2 separate regions of the Homo sapiens genome follow, and region 1 is linked to region 2. A link means that fine-mapping ties the variant in region 2 to the expression of a gene that starts in the linked region. Tissue or cell type: thyroid. Region 2 holds a variant in brackets; the other region holds the start of a gene. All regions are shown on one strand. Distances are between the middles of the regions. Region 1 holds the start of SFTA3 (surfactant associated 3). Region 2 overlaps SFTA3 (surfactant associated 3).

The links. PIP is the estimated chance that this variant, and not a neighbour inherited with it, causes the effect.
Region 1: it holds the start of SFTA3, and the variant in region 2 is fine-mapped to the expression of SFTA3 in thyroid (GTEx, PIP above 0.99).

Annotation. Positions count from the first base shown.
Region 1 is chr14:36,516,186-36,521,553 of GRCh38, reverse strand. It overlaps SFTA3 (surfactant associated 3), which reads left to right and starts at 1,998. Exons shown (of 5, transcript NR_161365.1): 1 at 1,998-2,086. NKX2-1 (NK2 homeobox 1) reads left to right here and starts at 1,322. Exons shown (of 3, transcript NM_001079668.3): 1 at 1,322-1,501; 2 at 2,184-2,569; 3 at 3,534-5,157. The coding sequence starts at 1,425. The coding sequence ends at 4,276. NKX2-1-AS1 (NKX2-1 antisense RNA 1) reads right to left here and starts at 2,276. Exons shown (of 2, transcript NR_103710.1): 1 at 1,875-2,276. RefSeq lists enhancers at 1-906, 907-1,906, 3,065-4,063.
Region 2 is chr14:36,475,709-36,481,076 of GRCh38, reverse strand. SFTA3 (surfactant associated 3) reads left to right here. Exons shown (of 5, transcript NR_161365.1): 3 at 3,199-3,361; 4 at 3,974-4,106. Among named protein-coding and RNA genes, the nearest start is that of NKX2-1-AS1, 41 kb to the left of the region's middle. The variant G/A (reference allele first, on the strand shown) is at 3,310.

The DNA.
Region 1 (5,368 bases), 40 kb before region 2:
GCTGAAATCTTTAAAAATAAATAAAACTTTCTCTACTGTAATTGCTATTAATAAAAAAAGGGAGCCCGGATGAATTAAGTAGCTCAAAACTGCCTGTTCGTCATGATCAGGAGCTCCTTCTCTACAAGGAGGGGAAAGAAAATGTGAAAACAAAAACTAAATTCAAGAAGCTCCTTGACCAGCGCGGGTGTCTTGGAGGCACCTGCCGGGGCCGGCCGGGGAGCGCTCCGCCCTCCCAGCCCCTGGCGCGCAGAGGAGACTAAAACAGCTAAGGAGAAAGCAAAACAAAAACAATGATAAAAACGTTTAAAATCCAAGGACAAAAACCGGAGTCGGTCTCAAAATCCGCGCCGTTCAGTGCTCCACTCGGTAGTCGACTCGGCTGCAGGCCCCGGCCTGGCCGGAGCAACGCGGGGGACACCCCCGATTCCGCTGGGGAGCGCAGCCCACAGCTCCCCCTCGCCAGGCGCCCAAGGACCCTCAAGGCGCGGGGCCCACACTTGAAGCCTGGGAACGCGCAGACAGGAAACCCTCTTCCTCCTAAGCAGTTTCTTGCTCGTCGGATGAGAGGCGCCCAATTGAAGCAGAATGATCCTCATCTACTAATATCCAGCGTGGCCACAAAGCGACTGGCCATTTACGCCACCACTTTAAACAAAGATATTTGGTTATTCCCGGGAAGCAAGAGCACTTTTGCATGGCTGAGCTGCGGGCGGAGGCGAGCCTCGGCCCAGCCTCCCGCCCGCTGAGCTGCCCGCACCTCGGCATTCGCCCCCTCCTGGCCAGCGCTCCAGCCGCCGGGGTTCAGGCTCAGTTCCGCCCGGCAACAGACAGACGGGCACTCACGCCGCTCCCTGCTCGCGCGCTCCCTGAAGCATCAGAGGGGAAAACAGCGTGGCTCTGGGCTCGGGTGCTGGGGCTGTGATGTCCTCGGAAAGTCAGCTCCAGCCCCAGATCCCCGCGTGTCTGGGAGATGGGCGAGGGTCAGGGACACCAGGTTTGTTCGAGGTGGGGCAACTTCAGTGACGGACCCTCCCGTGAGACCCCTTCCCATCCTCCCAGCTCTGGGGGCCAGTGCTGTGTTTGCTCGGCCGGGGGTGGGGGGGGGGGGGGAAGACCTTGGGGGAGGCGTGTTAGCGGGGGTGGCCCACTGAAAAACCCCTGAGCTGCGGGGGCGGGTTGTGGCTCGGGGATCCGGGACAGCCTCCGGGAGGCAGTCGATCCCCTACTCAGCGCCCCCTCCGCCCGCTCGGATTCTCTCCGGTAGGGGGAAAGGGGGCGGGGAGCAGAGGTGTCCCTCTGACGGCGGCAGAAGAGAGGCAGACAGACTGACAGACACGTAGACCAACAGTGCGGCCCCAGGGTTCGTCCCCAGACTCGCTCGCTCATTTGTTGGCGACTGGGGCTCAGCGCAGCGAAGCCCGATGTGGTCCGGAGGCAGTGGGAAGGCGCGGGGCTGGGAGGCCGCGGCGGGAGGGAGGAGCAGCCCCGGCAGGCTCAGGTGAAACCCCCACCCTGTCCCTCAGCCCCCTCCTCCTAAAGACCTGTCCGTGCCCGGGGAACCCCGACCGAATTGGAAAGTGGTTCCACTTTGTAACTCCGCAAGTTGGTTGCAAAGCAGCATTCACCTTCCTTCCTCTCAACCATCTCTCCTCCTCTGTTACTCCCCCACCCCACCTCCTGCCCTCCCCGCTCTCGGTTCCCTCCTCCTTCCCCTCCCCTCCACCTCCTCCCCGCGCTCCGCTGGTACCCCACAAAAAATGGGGGTGGGGGTGTCCAAGGGAGGGGGGAAATGCTTTGGGTCTCGTCTCTGCCTCTCTCTCTCTCTCTTTGAGACCTAAAAATCCTGACAAGTGAAACTTAAAGGTGTTTACCTTGTCATCAGCATGTAAGCTAATTATCTCGGGCAAGATGTAGGCTTCTATTGTCTTGTTGCTTTAGCGCTTACGCCCCGCCTCTGGTGGCTGCCTAAAACCTGGCGCCGGGCTAAAACAAACGCGAGGCAGCCCCCGAGCCTCCACTCAAGCCAATTAAGGAGGACTCGGTCCACTCCGTTACGTGTACATCCAACAAGATCGGCGTTAAGGTAACACCAGAATATTTGGCAAAGGGAGAAAAAAAAAGCAGCGAGGCTTCGCCTTCCCCCTCTCCCTTTTTTTTCCTCCTCTTCCTTCCTCCTCCAGCCGCCGCCGAATCATGTCGATGAGTCCAAAGCACACGACTCCGTTCTCAGTGTCTGACATCTTGAGTCCCCTGGAGGAAAGCTACAAGAAAGTGGGCATGGAGGGCGGCGGCCTCGGGGCTCCGCTGGCGGCGTACAGGCAGGGCCAGGCGGCACCGCCAACAGCGGCCATGCAGCAGCACGCCGTGGGGCACCACGGCGCCGTCACCGCCGCCTACCACATGACGGCGGCGGGGGTGCCCCAGCTCTCGCACTCCGCCGTGGGGGGCTACTGCAACGGCAACCTGGGCAACATGAGCGAGCTGCCGCCGTACCAGGACACCATGAGGAACAGCGCCTCTGGCCCCGGATGGTACGGCGCCAACCCAGACCCGCGCTTCCCCGCCAGTAAGTGAGGCCGCCCCACTGCGGGGCCGCGGGCTGAGCTCAGGAGGTGCGGCGAGAGCCGTCCAGAAGGCGCGGCGCCGGCAGGCTGCGCGCTGGGCATCAGGGAGGGCGGCCCGGCAGCGGCGCCAGGGACTTGGGTGCGGGAGCTGGGGATGCTTCCCCCTGCTCGGCTGGGGGTCCAAGAACAGGCACTTGGTAGCGCTGGGGTCCTGCGGTCAGATGCGGGTACTCGGCGTCTCCTAGGCGCGGTGGACTGGCAGCTCTGCTCGGCGCAGAAGACCTCGGGGAGCCAAGGGAAGCGACCCCGAGCTCAAGGAGCAGGGGCGAGCAGAGCGCGGAGAGGCTAGACCGGGCCAGGAGGGAGGCTGCCCTGTTGGGAGGCACTCGAGCGCCCGGCCCGGCCCTCTCTCCAGCGGAGTCTGGGCAGGTGGGAGGACTCGCAGTTCCAGAGGGGACTCTAAGGGTCCGAGCAGGTGCCCTCACTGGGGCCTGACAGGAGAGAAGCCAAGAGGCAAAGCGTCTGGGGGCTCCAGCTTTTGGAAGTCAACACCCCCTCTCCTAACCTCTCCAAACTGGGGTCTACCGTAGGACCCCAGCTCCCGGCCTGAGCCCAGTTCGCCGCCTGTGGCCAGCTAATCCTAATGCTCTGACCCGGGCTGGGCACGAAAGGAGCAGAAGCGGCCTTTCCCCCACTGCGTCTTTTGGTTCGAAAGAGGGAACTGAGACTGAGGGAGGGCAGCCAGGGTTGGGGCTGTGAGCGCTCCAGTACAGCCCCCTCGACGGTACGGCCTGGGGCAGGCGCTGGCAGTTCCCCGCGGATGGGCCTCTTGGGCCCCAGCGCTAGGCTGCCTGGGTCAGGAGGGCGCCGTCGGTTGGGGCGGGCCGGGCGGGCCAATGGCGCGGAAAACAGGGGTGGCCTGGCTCGGCCTGGCCCCGGCCGACGCTGTGCGTTTGTCGCTTACAGTCTCCCGCTTCATGGGCCCGGCGAGCGGCATGAACATGAGCGGCATGGGCGGCCTGGGCTCGCTGGGGGACGTGAGCAAGAACATGGCCCCGCTGCCAAGCGCGCCGCGCAGGAAGCGCCGGGTGCTCTTCTCGCAGGCGCAGGTGTACGAGCTGGAGCGACGCTTCAAGCAACAGAAGTACCTGTCGGCGCCGGAGCGCGAGCACCTGGCCAGCATGATCCACCTGACGCCCACGCAGGTCAAGATCTGGTTCCAGAACCACCGCTACAAAATGAAGCGCCAGGCCAAGGACAAGGCGGCGCAGCAGCAACTGCAGCAGGACAGCGGCGGCGGCGGGGGCGGCGGGGGCACCGGGTGCCCGCAGCAGCAACAGGCTCAGCAGCAGTCGCCGCGACGCGTGGCGGTGCCGGTCCTGGTGAAAGACGGCAAACCGTGCCAGGCGGGTGCCCCCGCGCCGGGCGCCGCCAGCCTACAAGGCCACGCGCAGCAGCAGGCGCAGCACCAGGCGCAGGCCGCGCAGGCGGCGGCAGCGGCCATCTCCGTGGGCAGCGGTGGCGCCGGCCTTGGCGCACACCCGGGCCACCAGCCAGGCAGCGCAGGCCAGTCTCCGGACCTGGCGCACCACGCCGCCAGCCCCGCGGCGCTGCAGGGCCAGGTATCCAGCCTGTCCCACCTGAACTCCTCGGGCTCGGACTACGGCACCATGTCCTGCTCCACCTTGCTATACGGTCGGACCTGGTGAGAGGACGCCGGGCCGGCCCTAGCCCAGCGCTCTGCCTCACCGCTTCCCTCCTGCCCGCCACACAGACCACCATCCACCGCTGCTCCACGCGCTTCGACTTTTCTTAACAACCTGGCCGCGTTTAGACCAAGGAACAAAAAAACCACAAAGGCCAAACTGCTGGACGTCTTTCTTTTTTTCCCCCCCTAAAATTTGTGGGTTTTTTTTTTTAAAAAAAGAAAATGAAAAACAACCAAGCGCATCCAATCTCAAGGAATCTTTAAGCAGAGAAGGGCATAAAACAGCTTTGGGGTGTCTTTTTTTGGTGATTCAAATGGGTTTTCCACGCTAGGGCGGGGCACAGATTGGAGAGGGCTCTGTGCTGACATGGCTCTGGACTCTAAAGACCAAACTTCACTCTGGGCACACTCTGCCAGCAAAGAGGACTCGCTTGTAAATACCAGGATTTTTTTTTTTTTTTGAAGGGAGGACGGGAGCTGGGGAGAGGAAAGAGTCTTCAACATAACCCACTTGTCACTGACACAAAGGAAGTGCCCCCTCCCCGGCACCCTCTGGCCGCCTAGGCTCAGCGGCGACCGCCCTCCGCGAAAATAGTTTGTTTAATGTGAACTTGTAGCTGTAAAACGCTGTCAAAAGTTGGACTAAATGCCTAGTTTTTAGTAATCTGTACATTTTGTTGTAAAAAGAAAAACCACTCCCAGTCCCCAGCCCTTCACATTTTTTATGGGCATTGACAAATCTGTGTATATTATTTGGCAGTTTGGTATTTGCGGCGTCAGTCTTTTTCTGTTGTAACTTATGTAGATATTTGGCTTAAATATAGTTCCTAAGAAGCTTCTAATAAATTATACAAATTAAAAAGATTCTTTTTCTGATTAAAACCCTCCTTTTTGTTTTGTTTTGATTTGGCTTTAAATGGCTTTGAGGGGCGGGGGCTTGGGAGGATCTTGTCTTTGGTCTGATGAGATTCAAATTGTTTGGGTTTGAGCTCAAAGGATTCTGAACCGGTTAAGGAGGTAAGGAGGCCAGGCCCAGAGTCCTTGCCCCACAGGAAGAGGGAGTTTTGTTCTGCCTCAGAAATTGTGTGGAAAC
Region 2 (5,368 bases):
GTCATCTTTCTGATTTAAACCACATCCATAATACATACACATGTTTTACTTCTATTTTAATTTCTTTAAATTGGAGCAAGAACTTAGATACTGACAAATCTATGTCAGAGTAGAATCTGTTTAGATTTTTAATGATTTCTTTCCATTTACAACTTTATATCCATTAAAGCAACTTTTAGAAGCTTACATTTATGTCTTTGTACATTATAAAAACAACTTTCTGTACTTATATTTTATTAATTTACATAAGATTTCCTCAAATAACATAGCTATAACAATAAGTAAAATTGTTATAAAAGAACTTAGACCAAACACATCTGACACTTGGTAGGCATACAATGCAATTCAACTGGTGAGAGCAGTAGTAAGATGAGTGTATAGACAGCAGCTTATCAGCTTTGAGCATTGGGGAGGGCAGGGCTGTAGTCAGTGTGCTTTACAAAGGAAATTATGTGTATCAAGTAAGCTGGTTAAATAGAGGCCACTTTAAGAGCATTTGTAATACAGTGGATGCCCAGAAGAAGGATACTTAACCCGGACTGGGGGTTGAGGAATGTCTTTCCAGGGGAGGTGACATAAGTTGAGATCTAAAGATGTGGAAGGACTTAGCCAGAAGAAAAGTCAGAAGATCTGTTTCAAGCACTGGAAACAACCAGAGAGAGAAGACAGCACCTACATTGGAGGAACAGCAAGAAGTATTGCTGGAGTGTGGCGTGCAGAAGGGGATGTGTTGAAGATGAAACTTGGAGAGAATCATGTTAACCATGTTAAGAAGTTTAGACTTTATTTTAGGGACAGTGGAAAGCCACGGAAAATTTTTAAGTAGAGGACTGACATAATCAGACTTGTGTTTTAGAAAGATCCCCTGGACTGCATTCCAGGGACCAGAATAGAGATGGTGGTAGGTCAGTGGAGGGGTGAAGGGTAGGAAGTCCAGTGATGGGGCTACCAAGGGAGTGGTGATATGAGCCTAGTACTATAGGGATGGAGAAGAGTACACCTCAGCTCTGAGAGGCAGGTAGGGGGTAGACTGTACAGGGGTTTAGTGGCCAAGTGTATTTGGGGGTGAAGGAAAGAAGGAAGACCAGCTTTGGTGATGGTGTCATTTGCTGAAATAGAGAACATGGAACAAGAGTAGCTTTGGAAAGAAGATGAGGTAAACTTAGAATATATTGAATTTGAGGTCTAATGAAGCTGTGGGATGTCCATTAAGTAGCTAGACATGTAACTCTAAAACTGGATCTCAGAGGTTAAAGTGGCCAAAAAGTCATATAATGTAAGGAATGGAAAGTATCCAATGAGTTTTATCAATGAGGAGGCTCCTGGTAACATTGGTGAAGGCAGCTTTAGAAAGCAGGTAGGCACATGAGCCCAATGGTAATGGGTTGAGGAGCCTGTGGGCATGAGGAAATGACCATGGGTACTTAATCATTTAGAGAATTTGGGCTTTGAAGGGGAGGACAGAGTAGGGTAATTTCCAGAGTAGCTGAAAGAGAAGTAGGGGATGAAGAACATATTTAAGCATTACTAAGATGAGTCAGTAGAAAGGTAAAGACTGCAAATGTAAGGGAGGAAATAATGAGGGGGTTAAATGCAGAAACCCACACTTAGTATAGAACGCTGTTGTGAGGGGATAAGTGAGTAAGCCCATGTAAAGCATTATGCTCTGCCAGGCACGGTGGCCCACGTCTGTAATCCCAACACTTTGGGAGGCCGAGGTGGGAGGATTGCTTGTGCTCAGGAGTTCAAGACCAGCCTGGGCAACATGGCAAAACCCTGTCTCTGCAAAAAATACTAAAATTAGCTGGCACGGTGGTTCACGCCTGTAGTCACAGCTACTTGGAAGGCTGAGACATGGGAATCACTTGAGCCCAGGAGGTTGAGGCTGCAGTGAGTGGTGACTGTGCCATTGTTAGTTCCTTTCATTCTCTATGCACTGCCCATCCCGTATTTTGTTTCATCTGTGCCCTGATATAATTACTTTGGCCTGTGCCTTTTTGGCTGCATACCTGTGGTTTTAGATAGTTACTCATGTAATTCTGGATGGGCATCTAGGTTTAGAAACTAGCAGACTGGTTTAATGGCTTGCCTATCCCCTCTTCCCATATATGGCCTCAGCAAATCCCATTTCTCAAATGTGTACTCACAGTTTCACTGTCATGTTTAGCTGCTCAGCAGAGGTGATGGGCTCCTAACCACACCTGAGTCATCTCATGTACTCATTCAGACTTCAAAGTATCTTAGCTTTCCATTCTTTCAACTAAGCCAAGATGGGAGGTTTCTGTTCATTGTGGAAAGAGGCTCTTTTCTCCTTGTAGCCTTACTCCAATGTTTATCTTTAATTATTAACAAGAATTATTAAATGCTTATTTCATTGCTTGCACAGAGTATTCAAAAAACTGAATTTTCCTTTCCTTAGTTCTGCTTGACACATTTCATTTCCTCATTGCTCACCTCTTAGCCATTTTTCTGCCATACAGGCCCTCCTCCTCATGCCCTCTTTTTTTTTTTTAGCATTTCGATACGTTTCTTTCCAATTATTTCTATACTTTGGAAAAATATAATTGAAAAAAATACTGCATGTTTTTTTTTCACTTGCTATTTTAACATAATTATTTTCCTGTTAAAATTATTAACTATAATTTTGATAACTGCTAGATATTTTATCTTACAGCTGTACTAAGCTTCATCTGGCCATTTTCCTATAATTAAGCATCTAGGTGCTCATGTGTTTACACATATATCTTTGTTCACATTGTTTATTATTTCCCTACCTAAGGTTTCTAGAAGTGGGATTACAATGGTAAGCATTTTAAGAGGAATACAAAAGCTAGTTTCACATTAAGAACTAGAAGTGACACTGCTGTTTTCTCACCAGCAGAATACTAACTTTTCAAGTCCCATTCATATTACGACAAAAAAGAATGGCTTCACAAATCTCATTCATTTTATAAGTAGCATCATCTTCATCTTAAAAATATAAGTCATCTAATTGTTTACAGTGTTACACACTGTTCAAAGAACCACATAGCTCTGATTCCTTCCTTCCAAAAATTTACATTCCAAGGAAGATATACTGATGTGAAGACTCACCAAATGCAGACAAGAACTATTAAAAGTACCCCATGGATGGACCTCCAAATGAGTTTAGGGTAATTGCGCTTAAAATATTAGGACCAAAGTACATTTATTTTATAGATGGAGGAGGGGAGGAGACGAGTGGGGACCAGCTTGACATCCAGTCTTCACCTGGACATATGGAAAGAACAAATGTGCGATCTGCTCGTTCCCTCTGAAGGTCTCTGTTAC[G/A]TATTTCCTCCTCTCCTCCAGAGCATAATAACCAATGACTGCTCTCAGAAAGGTACTGTGACCACCACTTGCTTGGCTCTCCAACTTCCTCCCCCATTTCCCTCTTGACTCCTGTTTGCCATAACACCTTCTGTCCCCTAGCCTTGCCTCAGGTCCCCGACGAATCCTGCCCTTAATCTGTGGGGGTGGTAGGTGGCACTGGTTTGAAGAGCTTACTGGATCTCCCTCAGTGAGTCAGCCTGGAGTTGTGTTTGAAAACCACAGGCCCTGACTGTGGCTGTCAGACCTCCCAGACACCACCTGCTGCTGCCTATCATCATCTTCAGGTGCTGGGCTCCCCTGTGGGCCTCGTCTGCCCGCCCTCTGCTGCAGCTGTCCCATGGGCGCCCGCCCTCTCTGACACCACAAGAGAGCCCATCTAGATTCCAGGAAAAAACTCATCTTTATTTGCCTTCTTCCCACTGAAGGTAAAAGCAACATTAATAACCACAACAAATACTTAGTGAGTGCTTACTATTATTCATTTAATTGTTGGCCCTTCCATCCCTGGCCATGATGAGAGACATGCCATAGCTTACTCCTAAAGAGACCTGAGGACACACGTGCACAAACATATTGGGCATATCATCAATGGCATCAAAACTGATTTTCCCTGTCTACCCAGAACAGGCCTGAGGGAGAGGGAAAAGCGGATACCCACCTGTGTCGCTGTTTGCGTGCCAAGTCCAGGAACAGTCCATACAGCCCTGCTGCATCCCACGACGCTGTCACAAAGCAGGAGTTCATCCGAGGCCAAGGTGTTGTCATGAGAATATTCGTTAAAGTAGGGACGCTGACTTTGTTCTTGGGCAGATTCTCTTCCTGTGGAGTATCCAGCCTGTTTGCCTAGTTTTCCTGTTCTTCTGGGGTCTGATCTCTATCTGTTTTACTGCAGTCCAGTTACCAAAGTGGTATAAGTAAAATTGAAAGAATTCTAAATACCTTTTCCCCCCACGTTAGCTGCCTCACGTTAATGTGGTCTTACGGTCTGCAAATAAGTGTTTTGATGATTTGGCGACTGCAGTTACCCATACTAGCTCTCCTACCACTCACTACTGACAGTTAATTATTATCGAATATCCACCCACCCAGGGTGAGTTATAAGTTATACCAGGTGTTTTGGTTAATAATACTAATGCAATTAATTTACTGTTTACTCTCTCATCTTAAAGTAATCAGCTGGTAAAATAAGATTGATTGGGTTGGCCAGGTGCGGTGGCTCACGCCTGTAATCCCAGCACTTTGGGAGGCTGAGGTGGGCGGATCACGATATCAGGAGATCGAGACCATCCTGGCTAACACAGTGAAACCCTGTCTCTACTAAAAATCCAAAAAAAAAAAAAAAAAAAAAAAAAATTAGCCAGGCATGGTGGCGGGTGCCTGTAGTCCCAGCTACTCAGGAAGCTGAGGCAGGAGAATGGCATGAACCCGGGAGGTGGAGCTTGCAATGAGTCGAGATCGCGTCACTGCACTCTAGCCTGGGTAACAGACCAAGACTCTGTCTCAATAAAAAAAAAAAAAAAAAAAAAAAAAAAAAAAAAGATGGATTAAATTGGTACTTAAATTTTTTTTCTTTGCGAGGCTTTTCCCTTATTCATATTAAATTTAAACTGTTTTTCAAATTTATTTTACTATTCATATTTCCTGTGCATGAATCATATAATCATGTCCTTTGCCCATTTATCCATTGGGAATATTATTAGTGTTCACATGCATGTTTGAATAAATTTTCATATACTTGGTGCTGATAATTCTATTTTTCATGTGTGTTGATTTTTTTGGTTTTTATTGCTAGTTATTTCTATTACTTACAAGTTAAAAATTTATGTAATTATATTTGACCATTTTATTTCATTTCTAATTTCTCCATTTGCTCCAATTGTAAGAAAATTATCACTTTAAAGTGAGACTAAAAGCCCTATATATTCTTTTAGGTCTCTATTTCCCACCATCCCTGAGATTTTACTCTGACATTCTCTGGGCCTTACAGCCCAGGCCCTATAATTATTCAACACATTAT